2 separate regions of the Homo sapiens genome follow, and region 1 is linked to region 2. Evidence: fine-mapped expression QTL. Tissue or cell type: whole blood. Region 2 holds a variant in brackets; the other region holds the start of a gene. All regions are shown on one strand. Distances are between the middles of the regions.

The links. PIP is the estimated chance that this variant, and not a neighbour inherited with it, causes the effect.
Region 1: it holds the start of SEMG1, and the variant in region 2 is fine-mapped to the expression of SEMG1 in whole blood (TOPMed, PIP above 0.99).

Annotation. Positions count from the first base shown.
Region 1 is chr20:45,202,242-45,210,331 of GRCh38, forward strand. SEMG1 (semenogelin 1) reads left to right here and starts at 4,792. Exons shown (of 3, transcript NM_003007.5): 1 at 4,792-4,888; 2 at 5,133-6,489; 3 at 7,360-7,527. The coding sequence starts at 4,813. The coding sequence ends at 6,445.
Region 2 is chr20:45,259,589-45,267,696 of GRCh38, forward strand. The region is part of intron 2 of LOC105372630 (a long non-coding RNA gene); the gene reads left to right. Among named protein-coding and RNA genes, the nearest start is that of SLPI, 9.1 kb to the left of the region's middle. The variant C/T (reference allele first, on the strand shown) is at 4,767.

The DNA.
Region 1 (8,090 bases), 57 kb before region 2:
AAAAATCCTGTAGCTATCACAAGTGATTTTAACCTGATAATAATTTGTTTGATTACAAAACATAAAACTACACCTTACCACCACTTCCCTCCCCGCATTTTGATATTTTCATGTCACAATTAACAGCTTTTATGTGCCATATACATTAACAATTTATTGTAGTTATTATTAATTTCAAGTTTTATCTTTTAGCCTTCATACTAAAGATAGAAGTGATTTATACATCACCATTATAGTATCACAGTATTCTGAATTTTGACTGTGTAATTAATTTTATTAGTGAGTTCTACACTTTTAGATTATTTTGTATTACTCATTAGCATCCTTTTCTTTCACCTTGAAGAACTCCTTTAGCATTTCTTGTAAAATAGGTCTGATGGTGACATACTTCCTCACCTTTGTATGTCTAGGAAAGTTTTCATTTCTCTGTCATTTCTGAAGAACAGCTTTGCTGAGTATAGTATGCTTGGATGGTTTTCTTTTTTTTCATTACTTTGATAATATTATTCCACTCTCCTCTGATCTTTAATGTTCCCTTTGAGAAATATGATTTGATTGCAGCACTATTCATACTAGCAAAAACATGGAATCGACTTAGGTGCCCATCAATGGTGGATTGGATAAAGAAAATATGGTGTATATACACCATGGAATACTACACAGTCATAAAAAATAAATAAAATCATGCATTTGCAGCAACATGGATGCAGTGGGAGGCCATTATCCTAAGTAGATTAATGCAGGAAGAGAAAACTATATACCACATGTTCTCAGTTATAGAGGGGAGCTAAATGTCAGATACTCATGAACATAAAGATGGAAATAATACACACTGAAGACTACTAGAGGAGAGAAGGAGGGAGGGAAGGGGACAAGGGTTGAAAAACTAAATGTTGGGTATTATAGTCAGTATCAGAATGACAGGAAAATTCATACCCCGAGCTTCAGCATCATGCAATATACCCAGGTAACAAATTTGCACACTTGGCCCCTGAATGTAAAATAACAGTTGAAAAAGAAAAAAAAGGTCTGATGTGAAGTGTATTGGAACTGTTTTGCATTTTATTTGCTTCTTTTCTTTTGCTGCTTCAGTATCATTTATTTGTCTTTGATCTTTCACAGTTTAATTATTATATGTCTAGTCTTTTTTGAATTGAATGTGATTGGTGACTGTTGACCATCCTGCACTTTGACTACATATATATATATATAATAGACACATACATATATATATAATATATATGTATATATGTATATGTATATATATGGGTGTATATATGTGTGTGTGTGTGTGTGTGTATATATATATATATATATATATATATATATATATATATGAACTCCTCAGATTTGGAAAGTTTTCTGTTATTACTTATTTAATAAGCTTTCTTTACTTTTCCATTTATCTTTCTCTAACTTCTCTTGAATGCCAGTAAATTGTCCCTTTGCTCACTTAATGCTATTCCATACATCTCATAAGTTTCCTTCATTCTATTCTTTTTTCTTTTTTCCTTTTCTGAGTATATATTGTCAAATAACCTGTATTCAAGCTCACAGATTATTCCTTCTGCTTGATCATTTCTGGTGTTAATGCACTCTATTGCACTTTTCACACTTTTCATTTTATTCATTGCATTCTTCAGCTCCTATATTAACATTAGATATTAAATGTTATCATTTTTACCCTTTGTTACATCTCTCTTTCTGGTCACTTATTGTTTTCATCATTTCATTTAATTATTTATCTGTATTTTATTAAAGTTCTTTGAGCTTCCTTAGAACAGCCATTTTAAATTCTCTTTCAGGCAGGTCATACATCTCCATGTCTTTGGGGCCAATCAATGGTATCTTATTTTGTTCATTTGGTACCTTATTTTGTTAATTTGGTGTCATCAGTTTTCCCCGATTGTTCTTGATCCTTGTGATTGTGCATTGATGTCTGCACATTGAAGAAGTAGGTACTTATTGAATTGCAGGTAGGTACTTGAATGCAGATATTGAATTTAAGGTAGGTACTTACTCCAGTTTGGCTTTGTCTGAGAATGTCCCTCAACTCTGTCCGGAAATTCTAGGCAGATCATCTGTTCTAGGTTTGTAAGCCTGTGACTGTTTCAGTCATTGCAGCACAAGGAGATGTCATAAACCCAGGACCACCATGGCCAGTTCTGCACCAGGCTGTAACCCATGGCTGCAGAGGCTGGCACAATGATGGAATGCATTCCCAACTCCTCCTCACTGATACCTGCCTACGTATGTTGGTTATTCATAATCCAAGGCTGCTGTAGTTGGCTGCCAGTGGTACAGGTAAGAACGCAAGTCTATCTCACAGGAACTATGTGTTCCTCTCTGCTGCTGGGGCAGGTCTTGCTGCTTAGGCCACAGGTATTCAAGCAGGGTCACTATGGGTGTCCTCCCAGTGCTGAATTTTACTATTATAGACTAGTATTTTGTTCCGTGAAAAAGTCCAAGCCTTACTTCATTCCCTTCCCCCCAAAAGAAAGTAGCTCTCTCTGCACTGTGCTGCCTGTGATTGGGTTAGGGGTGATACAGGAAACAAAATTGTCTTTCGTGCCCTCTTCAATGTGTATTTTTAATTATTATACTATAATCAGGTTCTGTAATATCTCATCTGGCCTGTTTAGCTTTTGAGAAACTATTATCATATGTGGATAATTATTAAATTCGACGTTTTGGAGGGTATAATCTCTGGGGAGTCCTACTCTACCAGGTTTTTCTGCCCATTCCCCAAAAATAACTATATTTGAATCTTTTCTAAGTTGTAAAGTGATTTCCCATAGAATTGAGCAAAATACATTTAAGTCCTCCTGTTTTCTTCTTTTCCTATGAGTATAAAACTTTCAGATTTTTGTGCCAATTTAGTGCACTTTAATATTTTTGCATTTTTTATTTGTCCAACAGGACAAATCATTTGATCACTTAATCTTTTCCCCCATCATAATTCCATATCTAAGATGTATGCATCACCATACCATTTTTATGCTTTCCAAATCACTGATTTCTGATTTCAACTTTATCAATACATTCCTTTATCATTTGGAAATGTTTTTTTCCACATTTCATTGAATTCAATTCTAATATGAATATAGTAATCACATGTTTTGCTTGGATTGCATTTTCCTGGTTTGTTTTTGCAAATATTGTGCCCTTTTGTTTTATCTGCATCTTTTGGACACTAGATGAGATGAAAGTTTTGTTCTTGATCCATAAGTAAGATTAATATTTCAGACTCTATTTTGTATCAGTAAGTTTGGAACAGAACAGTTTCTGGTATTTTCTTAAGGGAAGTGTGAGGAAGATTACAGTGGTTAGCAGACACAGTAATCAATTTTAGTTCAGAACAATATCACCTTACTCTGTTGGGGTTTCTGCAATAAGGAACTACTTACTGCCTTTGAGGCAAACAGATAAATTTGGTAAGATCTCAGAGTGGCTCATAGAGAAACCATGCAGCTCACATGATTTATGTTTGATAGCATAGCACTTTTTTTCTGTGGTTGGCCTTTCTCTTTTCCCCTTCCATAGAGCATTGCCTACAGGAAGGTTAAGATTCTAAGACAGAATAATTGAAAATAAGTTTTCAAGCTATCCTTTCCCCAGCACTACCCTCCAAGGTGTTCTGAATGTACACAGGGACACTGTTGGGATGCTTTCTTCTTCTCCTGTGGTCTGCTCATAACGAAGTCTTTATGACTCAAAGTAAAGAAAGTTTCTTCAGACTTTTCAGGATGTCATCACAATTGGAAAAATCTATGCTTCTACCAAAGGTGGGAATTTTAGCTTCATGTCCACTCACAATACATTATTCAATTCATTGATGGTGGCAAATATTTCTCACAGCCTGTTTGGGGATTCAGCTGTTTACTACTGAAGTAGAAACTTCTCTTAATTAAAAAGAAAATTCTGCTGTTTAGGTAGATTTCATGAAAAGAACCCAATCTAGAAACCAGCATTTTTACTTTTTTTCCAACAGTTGTTCCTATCACCATGAAAGCATATTAAAATTCTTTCATCCTTTGAAAACACATCTGGAACTTACCTCACCCTCCAGATACAGCCTCAGCTCTCACTCCACCATGAATTCAGACTTCCTGAGAAGGTTGCAGCTGGTCTCCATCCTTCAACTGACAACCCAATGCAATTGTATTCATCTCTCATTAAAGTTACTAGCAACAACTAAGAAAAACTTTGGATACATGTCAGTCTTTATTGTGTTGAACTTGACAGACATATTTGACATTGGAGTGCCCCATTTACTTGTTTAAAATTTCTTTCTTTGGATTCCATAACGTTTCATTATCTTCTATATCATTGGACTTCTATGATTGCTCATTCTTAGGTAAAATAGAACGTGTCTCAAGATCATTTTTAAAACAAAAGGAAGTATGGAGTTCTATCTAAAATAGAGTATTTAAATTATTGCATCATGAAGGGAAACTCACATTTAGAATATAAAGGCATTCTCAGAAACCAATTGCTTTTGTAGCCTGAAGCCAGTCTCTTTCCTACTTTTGTCTATAATTCTGTAAAATTAAAGTGATCTGGCATGATGATCTAAAAGGACTGATAAAAATTTGCTGGGGCTGCCAGAAGAAAGAAAATGCCTTTGACATTATGTTGCTGGGGACATTGACTTTGTCCCACACTCAGCAGGGGTGAGGAAGTTGGCATTTACTGATAAGCTAAGAAAAGTCAGTGCCTTTTGTAATTTAAGCTCCACCCATGGCACACTCACTCAAGGAAGATATAAATGACAAGGTCGGCTCAGCTCTCAGACAAGGTTTTCCAAGCAAGATGAAGCCCAACATCATCTTTGTACTTTCCCTGCTCCTCATCTTGGAGAAGCAAGCAGCTGTGATGGGACAAAAAGGTGAGTGGAGAGGGTAAGCCTTGGGGAAAGCTGCTCAGACAGCTAATAATCTAAGATTATTTGGGGTGCAAACAGTAACCTGTTTAGGCACAGATTCTTCTCTTTGAAGAGAATTGATTTTCTCCACCCAAAGCTTCAGCTTTTCTAGAAATATCAATAATTTGTTGGGGGAAAAGTGGGGGGTAAGAGTTGTAAGGGAGCTTTGGAGATAATGAATGCATACCTTCTTATTATCAATTACCAGGTGGATCAAAAGGCCGATTACCAAGTGAATTTTCCCAATTTCCACACGGACAAAAGGGCCAGCACTATTCTGGACAAAAAGGCAAGCAACAAACTGAATCCAAAGGCAGTTTTTCTATTCAATACACATATCATGTAGATGCCAATGATCATGACCAGTCCCGAAAAAGTCAGCAATATGATTTGAATGCCCTACATAAGACGACAAAATCACAACGACATCTAGGTGGAAGTCAACAACTGCTCCATAATAAACAAGAAGGCAGAGACCATGATAAATCAAAAGGTCATTTTCACAGGGTAGTTATACACCATAAAGGAGGCAAAGCTCATCGTGGGACACAAAATCCTTCTCAAGATCAGGGGAATAGCCCATCTGGAAAGGGAATATCCAGTCAATATTCAAACACAGAAGAAAGGCTGTGGGTTCATGGACTAAGTAAAGAACAAACTTCCGTCTCTGGTGCACAAAAAGGTAGAAAACAAGGCGGATCCCAAAGCAGTTATGTTCTCCAAACTGAAGAGCTAGTAGCTAACAAACAACAACGTGAGACTAAAAATTCTCATCAAAATAAAGGGCATTACCAAAATGTGGTTGAAGTGAGAGAGGAACATTCAAGTAAAGTACAAACCTCACTCTGTCCTGCGCACCAAGACAAACTCCAACATGGATCCAAAGACATTTTTTCTACCCAAGATGAGCTCCTAGTATATAACAAGAATCAACACCAGACAAAAAATCTCAATCAAGATCAACAGCATGGCCGAAAGGCAAATAAAATATCATACCAATCTTCAAGTACAGAAGAAAGACGACTCCACTATGGAGAAAATGGTGTGCAGAAAGATGTATCCCAAAGCAGTATTTATAGCCAAACTGAAGAGAAAGCACAGGGCAAGTCTCAAAAACAGATAACAATTCCCAGTCAAGAGCAAGAGCATAGCCAAAAGGCAAATAAAATATCATACCAATCTTCAAGTACGGAAGAAAGACGACTCCACTATGGAGAAAATGGTGTGCAGAAAGATGTATCCCAACGCAGTATTTATAGCCAAACTGAAAAGCTAGTAGCAGGCAAGTCTCAAATCCAGGCACCAAATCCTAAGCAAGAGCCATGGCATGGTGAAAATGCAAAAGGAGAGTCTGGCCAATCTACAAATAGAGAACAAGACCTACTCAGTCATGAACAAAAAGGCAGACACCAACATGGATCTCATGGGGGATTGGATATTGTAATTATAGAGCAGGAAGATGACAGTGATCGTCATTTGGCACAACATCTTAACAACGACCGAAACCCATTATTTACATAAACCTACCATTCGGTAACCATGTGAAAGGATGGACCAATATCAAGGTAATTTTTTTTTAGCAAATAGGGGAGATATCTCTCTCATTGTTTAGAATTGTTGGGGACTCTCCAGGACTTTTGTGGGATTGATAACCATTGTTCGCACCAATAGAAGTGCTGTATAACAAGTGGTAGGAAGATGAGCCTCCCCATTCCCTGGTGAGGAGAGGGTCTGGTAGTGGCACAGAAGGATGTTTGGCCTATCATGAGGTCCTAGAATTCCTATCCTTAATTGAATATTCTTCAATAATATTTTTTTGTATATGCCTACCTGCTAAAGGTTTTTTTGAACAGGTACTGACTACATATGCATATTTATAAGTTTATGGTATACTCTTGTCAGTTCTTATACTTTAGATTAGTAAACCTCAGTTTCTTTCCTATATAGTATAAAGGATTACAGCCATTAATGTTTTCTTTCTGCACACCAGTGAATGTTCTTGCATCCCTGTTAGGGTTCATCTATGCTCCTTCAGAGACCACAAGCCCAAAGACTATCAGTCCTCCCTCTCAGAATACAGGAAAGAGATATGTAGAAAGATCCTTGTTCATGTTGTGAAAGAGAAGATGGAAAGGGAGACACAAGAGATGGTGAGGGATCTCATGGGCCAATTGGGTGTTTACAACATCAGGAGAAGAAAACTGAAGCCCTGAGAGGGGTAATGGTGCTTCCCTGCCTCTTTGCAGTAAGTAACACTGCACTTGAAGAGAGGGCAAGCAGTAGAAACAGTGGCCCCAGCTGGCAACTAGTGGCCTGGTATCCTAGTAGTAGAGGGCTGGTACAGTTGGAGCTGAAGGGGACAGGGGGCCCAGCTACCATCCCCACCCTTCACTTTTTACTATACTCACATCACTGATTCTCTTCTTTCTCTCTAGGTGTCAGTTGACCTCAGTGAATTCTGTGATGTTTCTGAGATGCAGACTCCCGTGTAGTTTCAGATTCTTGGTCCATGGATGACACCACCTGCCCATGCTTCCTTGAATTAGGCTTTCCTAACCTGAAGCGCCTTCAAACTTCCAATAAAGAGATCATTTTCTGCTTCATCTGCTTTTGACTCCTGTTTTCTCTGGATTCCTAGTGGCTCAAGGGGTTGAGGGCATTTCTAATGTAAGTGGTTTTGAAAGAAAATAAAGGGATATTTTTGAAGCACTAGGGAGAATAGTAATCAAAGCCACATTTCAAGATATATTGATAGAAACCAACACTAAAAATAGGGTGCTGTTAGTCTACCAGTCACATGTCTACCACCTGAGGCCAACACTAAAGGCTTTCATGACCCTGGTACTAATAAGACCCCAGGAACTAAAAATATCCCAGAAAGACAAGAGAAAATGTATTGCAACAGGCCCTGGGAAAGTCCCTGATCTGCTGGTGATCAATTCCACAGTAGCACATCCCTTCAATTAGCTTAAGAATGTCTTACGCCTACAGTATCCATTGAGATGCAATTACACCAAAGGTGATATGTTAAATCTGCACAACTTCAGTAACAGCAAGTGGGTTAAAATGTCACCTGTGGATGGAAAGACCAGATGACCAGTCAAAGGAATCTTGAGGCAGGTGGTGTCTTCATAATGGAAATACTGCTGCCTATACTGCCTTTTCC
Region 2 (8,108 bases):
AGCCTCAGCCAATTTTCTGACTTTCATAGTTGCCTTTATAACTTAGCTTAAAATATTGTCTTAAACAAAATACATAAAACGTCAATAATGACCAAATGGGAATGGAGACACAGAGCCAGGGAGTATGGAGATGTAGTAGGTGTGGTGGGGAGAGTATTGGGGAAAAAAAAACCCCGAGCTGAGACAGGAAGAGTAGATGAGAAAGAGATGACTGCAAGGGAGGTGGGGTCATTTAAATCACCTCTGGAAGTGTCATCCACAGGTGGTGGACATGGCAACTGGATCTCCCTAGACCTTCCAGAGAAACAGATGGCTTAGCCACTCCTTATCATTTTCCCACCCAAGAAAGTTTGAATTCTGCAATGTTTGTACTTCCTCCCCTACTGCTCATCATAGTCCTAATAAAATCTGGAAATATGAACTGTCCTTTTAGGCCCACAAGTGAATGGGTGAAGGGCAGTAAAGCAGAATCTGGGCAAGGGTGAAAAACATCCACCATCAAAGAATTGGCAGGAGAAATTAACCAACAACGGTGGATCTCAGGTGTCTTCATACTTATTACCATGCAAGAGATGGTTGGTGTACAGATCAGGGCTCTGCACTTTATTCCTTCAAAAACTGCATGTCTGTCTCCCTAGAGGAAGGGATCCAGTTAACCTAAGGTTAAAGAAACAAAGTCTGTGGTATGTCATGAGGAAATGCTTTAGGGACCTGGTAAAACAAAAAGAAAAACAGTGCTCGGCATTAAGAAACTGCCATCATGACTACCCATGGAAGAAAACCGGGAATAGAAAAACTGGATTATTAAACTGTGGAACAGAGCTATAAGCAGCTTGGGAAAAGATGTCCCCAAATCACTAGAATCCATCTCCTTTGGTTTAGCATGTTTTGTTACATTTAAGCGTCACACAAAACTTGGTAGATACTAATGTCAAGTCAGTTTACAGATGAGAAAAAGTGAGTCTCAGAGAAACGTTCCTGTTGCAGATCAGGAGATGGTAGGGTCTTAGATGGACATGGCAGACGATGCCTGGTTGATCATTACTATGGGAGAGTTTGGTGTCTAAGCCTGGGGTCAGTGGAGAGCACCACTATGAGGACACCTCTGTGGCCCAAACAGAGCAGAGTGCCAGAAAGACCATGAAAGACTCACACTTGATAGCATCACTTCTGGCCTCTGGGACCCTGTGGTCAGCTAGAGAGGCATGACGATGATACTGGACTCAGGACACTGGGCTGGAATCCCAGCTCTGTCCAATTTGATGTAGAACCTTCCTTTCTCTGGGCCTCAGTTTCCCTATTTGTAAGATCAGTGCATTGGAACAGATGCTCTTTAGAGGCCCCAAGTCTTAGATTCTAGCTGGGTTTTTGCCTTATAGAGGACTCTCAGGACCCAGAGAGCCAACTTTCCTGAATAAAAAGCCTAGGAATAGACACCATGCATGACCCCGAACTTCACAGTGGACCAAGCACTTTTATATCCCATTTTAAAGAAAAGGAAATGGAACCTCAGAGAGTAAGCCCACTTGCCCAAGATGACACAGCAAGTCAGAGGTACAGTAAGATTCAAACCCAAGTCTTCAGAATTCAGCCACATACTGCTTCATTATGGTCCCTCCAAGACTTCTTTAGTCCTAAACCCAGAGTTGGAGATGCCTGGGATAGTAGCACTGTCCAGATAATCCTTCGGCGGAAAGTTAAAAAATGATCTTAAAGATGCAAGAAGTGAGAGTGCTGAATAAACCAAGGAGAATAGGTGCTATTTTCAGGTGCAATTTGAGCAAGGGCTCAAACTATAGCTCCCACAAGATTCTCTCCACGGCACTTCTCTTCATGTTGGCTTCATTCTTAGTCAGGCTCCCTCTTAGCATTTATAATATGGCTGTGGCATCTCCTCCCATCTTCCCAAATTCATGTCTAGTAAGGGCTTTTTCTGGGCAACTCAACTAACTAGGAGTGGCTAGAATTAAATCTTTAAACCAATGATTGGGACCAGGGAACTGGGATGTACCGATTGGTTTAAGCCAAGGCCACAATACTCATCACCATGTGTACTCATCCCCAAATCCAGTGGAATTTTCAGAGTGGGAGAGGGAATGATTCTCCTGGGGTAAATTAGGATATAGCTACCAGCAGAAGGGTGAAAGGATGCTCAGTGGTAAAAATAGCAGTGAGTGTTCTCTAAAGTATACCCCTTTTGGTTACTGAAATCTACATAACTAAATTTTTTCAAATACTTTCTAAACCAACATCTACATAAAATGCACTCAACCTCTCTCCCAAAGAAAGACAACAAAATGTCTCTCTGGGTACTATATTCATCTCCAGTTCTGCAATGTGGGTGAAAGCAGTTCTGTCAGTTAAATTTATAGTCTTCACAGATTAAGTTTAATAAGCTTAAGTAAATTTAACCACTTCAAATGCACCCAATATAGAATGGTAGATTGAGGGCGGAATGACTGCAATAAAAAGTCCTATTTGCAAAAGGGAAATATAGGAAGATATATACAAATTGTCACTGGCCCGTAATACGGATTGTACATCCTGTAAGACAGGGATGTGAGGACTTCCTACCTAATGTTGGAGTGATTTCCTTACTCAATAAATCTGAAGAATCCAGTTCTGCTGTCTGGGAGCCTCTCCTTTGCCTGTCACCTTCCATGGCTACATCTTGGAGGAGTATTGCAGAGGATGCCCTTTTGTTGGGGAAGGAAGGGCATCTGCACCTTTTCAAGAATTCACTTTATATAGGTGCAGCAGGATGTGGGGATCGACATGAACAATCAGTGGCCATTATGAGGCTTGGTTTTCATGTTTAGTTGGCTCCTGGTCCATTTGCTTCATATAAAAGCATGAACTAGTAACTATTGTCAGAAATCTCGCCGAGTCATGTTTGCCTTTTATTTATTCTGCTTTACTCCAAATATGCACTTTTAGTCTGAAGATGCATGTCTTAATTTAATCCTAAAAGAAAAAGTCCTTTCTTTATCTCTTTGAATATTACTTCTGTGCCATTCTCTCCAGTCTCTTTCTGGAACTTCCACCGGATATTTACTAGACCTTCTATTTTTATTATCGTTGTTTTGCCTTTCTCTTATATTTTTCTCTTCATCTCTCTGTGCTGGGCTCTGGGTGAATTTCTCAGTACTGGCTAAAAATTCACCAAGTTTTCTTTCAGCTGCATCCAGTCTAAACTCTACTTTATCCAATGTTTTTCCAACTTTTATTTTAGGTTCAAGGGTACATGTGCAGCTTGTTAACATGGGTAAATTGCATGTTAATATTTGATGTACAGATAACTTTGTCACCCAGGTAATACCCAATAGGTACTCTTTCAGTCCTAACCCTCCTCGAACCCTTCACTCTCAAGTAAGCCCCAATGCCTATTGTTCTCTTCTTTGTGTCCACGTGTATTCAGTGTTTAGCTCACACTTATAAGTGAGATGATGTGATACTCTGTTTTTGGTTTTTCTGTTGCTGCTTTAATTCACTTAGGATAATGGCCTCCGGCTCCATCCATGTTGCTACAAAGGACATTATTTCATTCTTTCTTATGCCTGCATAGTATTCCATGGTGTTTATGTATCACAGTTTCTTTATCCAGTCCACCATTGATGGGCATCTAGATTAATTCCATGTCTTTGCTATTTTGAATACTGCTGCAATGAATATATGCACGCATGTGTCTTCATGGTAGAACAATTTCTATTCGTTTGGGTATATATCCAGTAATGAGATTGCTGGGTCGAATGCTAGTTCTATCTAGTAAGTAATGAATTTTTATTTCAATAATCATTTATTTCCAGTATTTCTACTTGGTTTTTTTTATATGTTCATCTGGTAAATCTAAATAATGTACAGTTGTCTGCCACTTTTTTACCAAATTAGGCAGGACAACCCTTAGGCCAATTGTTAGGTATCTGCATTCTCTGAAAATTCAGCCTCATTGCTTGTTTTAAAAGACATAGAAAGAGACTTAGCATCAATAAACAATAAGCACCTAACCATAGCTCTCTTGTTTGATGTTGTTTTTCCTCCCATGAACATAAATCAAATTATCAATCAGCAATGCCTCTATGTGCATTTATGTTTAAGGTCTTCCTCAATTAGACAGCTAACCAAGGTCATCCCCTACAAAATAAGACATACAAGTTATAAATTGGTGCATGCTGGAAAGGAATTAGCATGATTTGCAAACCTAGAGTGTGCCTTAAGATTTTCCCATAGAAAATGGAGGCAATTATATCTCTATTCTGGTGTCTGTAATCCTAGCACTTTGGGAGGCCAAGGTGGGAGGATCGTTTGAGCCCAGTATTTCAAGACCAGCCTGGGCAAAATAGCGAGACCCCATCTCTAAAGAAAAATAAAAGAAAAAAATAAAAATTTAAAAGAAAAAAAATCACTTGTGGAGACAGGGCAAGGAGAAGCTGAGAAAGGAATAAAAACATGGGAGGGGCAGCATGTCCAGTCATCCCTGTTGGTCTAAGAGCAGCAATGCACTTCAAGGGAGAGGCTGGGTGTCCACCTCCTTCTTTTACCAGAAGGCTTGAATTCCCTTGGCTCGAATTTTGCCATTTGTGCAGGTTGGATTCTTCTTAGCAATTCTGGAGAGACTGAGAAAGGTGGTTGCCCTCAGAAAAAAACAGTACAAAGAAGAGTTAGAGAACTCATGGATGGGGAGAGCTGGGATCTGGGGCAACAGCAGCAAATGTCTGAACCAGAAGTAGAAGCCAAGAAAATTCAGTGGTGGCAGGAGCATTCGAAAC[C/T]TCCCCTCCCAAGAAATGATTTGTGACAGTGTCGGATTGAAGACCAAGATGTTTCTCACATTTTTCCCCCACGGGCTGGCATATCTCCCCAAAGGGAGACATCCATTTACTCAAGGACCAACAAAAAAGAAGCCATGACTTGTCACTAAGGAAGTTGTGGGCCTTGATAAGACATATTAAAAAAAGAACATGGCCTCTGTGGCGGTTGAACATGTGTTTGCTTTGTAATTGTTCATTAAATCTTACTCTTATTTTATGTGCTTTTCCTAATGCATGTTTTGTTTTACAATTTTAAAGTGTTGGGAGAAAGAATGAGTATTGGAAATTAGGCAATTGTCAGCAATGCTGGAACCTACAGGGGAGGCCAAGAGGAGAAAGAAAAATGACCTATCAAACTCTAGAACAAGGAGGATGCAGACCCCCAATTCCACAGCCTGGACTAACATCTCCCAAATTATCCTATATCCTTTCGCTTGATCTCAGTGACATTCATTAAAAGATCACAGACTTTGGAATCAGACTGACCAGCTTTTAAATCCTGTCTTTCCCACTTAATAAATATGTTCCCTTTGATAATTCTGATACTTGTGGCTAATAATTACTGAGCATCTTTTTTATGCTGGACACTGTGCTAAAGGCTTTGCATGCTTTTTCACATTTAAACCTATAACAATGAATAAAGCAGGTAGTACAGTATCCAATTTTACAAACAGGAAAAATAAGGCTCAGAGTCGGCCTCCTATACAAGGTGACAGGAGGAAGGAATGCTTTGGGTGAATTTGATAGGGGCTGTCTAAGGAATAATGCTTCTTACCCAGGCCTGAAGAGCAGCCATGATTCCCTGTGCCCAAAGCTGGGGTAAGGAGAGAGAACCACTGAGGGTCAACTCTTCAGTTCATGCAACTGATGTGCCTGCTGTACAGATGGTGCGTGAGCTCCAGATAGAAGCATCAGTTAGCATAAACTGTCTCTGGTGTCATCTTGATTAAAAATAGGACAATCTCCAATTTTATAAACACATTTTTAAAGTTGTATTTTCCACATTTAAGTCGTTAATCCATCTGGAATTTATTTTTGTGAAAGGTTTAAGTAGAGACTTTGTTTGATTTTTTTTCCAATATGGAATGCCAATTGTTCCCTATATCATTGATCCCCCTTTTGATCATAAAACTGTATTAATTTTGTACCAGTTTTCATATGTGGATGGATGCACTCTACTAGGTTTTCTTACTCAATTTGTTCACTCCCAGACCAATACCATACTCCTTTAATTTGCATCTATATTTTTTATAACCTGGTGCTTCGCAGTAGAAGTCTTTTCTGTTTTGCTTGTTTAGAATTGTTTTGGCTATCCCTGTGCTTTTACTCTACCATGTAAACTTTAGGGTCAATTTGACAAGGTCCTTAAAAACTCTGTTGAATTTTTATTATGATTGCATCCATGCTATAAATTACCTGGAAGAGCCAAAATATTTACCATAGTAAGTCTTCCCAAGTATAAAAAAATAAGTCTCACTCTATTTATTCAAGGCCTCTTCAAGTCTTTTAATAAAATTTTATTTTCATCATATAATTTTTCCAGGTAATCATAAATTTTATGGCTGTTGTGAATAGTTTACCCATTGATTCTCTTGGATTTCATCCTGAGACAATCATATCATTTGTAAACACTCACAATTTTATCTCTCCCTTTCCAATCCTTATACCTCTTTATTTTTATGTCCAATTTTATTGCATTGGCCTAAGATCACTAATATGAGATTGACTGAAAATGGAGATGGGAGAAATTCTGCCCTTGTACCTGTCTTTAAGGATGCCATTTCTAAAGTGTCATCACTGAGTATATTTGCTGCGACTGTTGGTAAATACCTTTTACCAGATTAGTTATGTTCACTTTTGTTCCTGGTCTAGGGTGTTTCTATTTTTATTACACATGAATGTAGAATACAATATAGAATGATTTTTATGAAACTATTTAGAGACTCATTTGGGTCATCTTTAAACTTTTAATTTGCTTAATCCCCTTGATAGATTTTCTGTTCTTGAACTATCTTTGCATATCTGTTTATTTATTTATTTATTATATTTATTATAGGGATACCCTACTATTATAATAAATGTCCTAGCATGTATTATACTTGTCACTTTGAAATATTTCAAATGTATGGAAAAAAATGGGAAGAACAGTACAAAGAACTACCATATTCCCTTCACCCAGATTCACTAAATATTAACATTTTGCCACATTTGTTTTATCATTCTTTCTCTTTTGTGTGTGTGAGAGAATAGAATGTTTTATTCCAACCATTGAGAATAAGTTGTATACATTATGCTCCTCTGTCCATGAATACTTCAGTGTGTATTCGCTATGAATAAGGACACCTTTATATAACCACAGTACAGTTATCAACTTCAAAAAATTCAACACTGACAAAAAATCCCAACATTTTGGATTTTCCCATGTATTCTCATAAGAAAAAAGAGTCTAGTTTCTTAAACTCTGATTATGATATAAACACACAATATCAAAGATAAGCACCACAAAAGTTTCCATCCGTGCTTTCCCTTCTTTTAGTCTCTGAAATCATTTGGGATAGAAATTGTCTTTCTTGTAGGTTTGGTAAAAAATGAATACATTTCATATTATTTCCCATTTTAAAAGAAGAGATTTAATTACCAAGTGAAAACCTCTTAACTTGTTTTCTTTTATAAAAGGAGAAATTTAATTACCATTTTAAATTCTTTAATGATTAGAGGTTTGTTCAGGTTTCAAATTTCTTCCTGGAACCAGAAAGGACAAAGAGAGGAGAGGAAACTGGTCATGCCTGGTAACCACTGAAGCAATTCATTTCAGACCTGTGTTACAACTCCTGATAAATGAAATCAAAGAGGATCACACTCATGTGTGTGTGATTTCTGAATAGTGCCCCAAAGAAAGTGCTAAACCTGACCAACAACAGCAACATTCTCAATAGGAGGTGGAGTGAGGATTGGTGCCACAAGGAACCTGGAGCTGATCCTAAAGGAAAATAAATATCTACTAGTTGTTGACCGATGTCACTGTGCACTTCTCTCACAAACAATGCCTTTATTCCTCACCACCATACAAAAAAGGAATTAATATTAACCCCATACATACATGGTAAAATTGACGCTCAGAAGGATGAATTCCCGAGCAATTTGGACATAACTCACACAATTATGATTTAAGATATGATCTGTCTCACTCAAAATCCACTATTCTTTCCACTCCACATGCTGAGAGCAAGGCCACAAATCCCACCACCTCTCTCACTTCTCTCCTTTCCTCCCATCATCCCCCATGTCCTAGACCATGGGCCA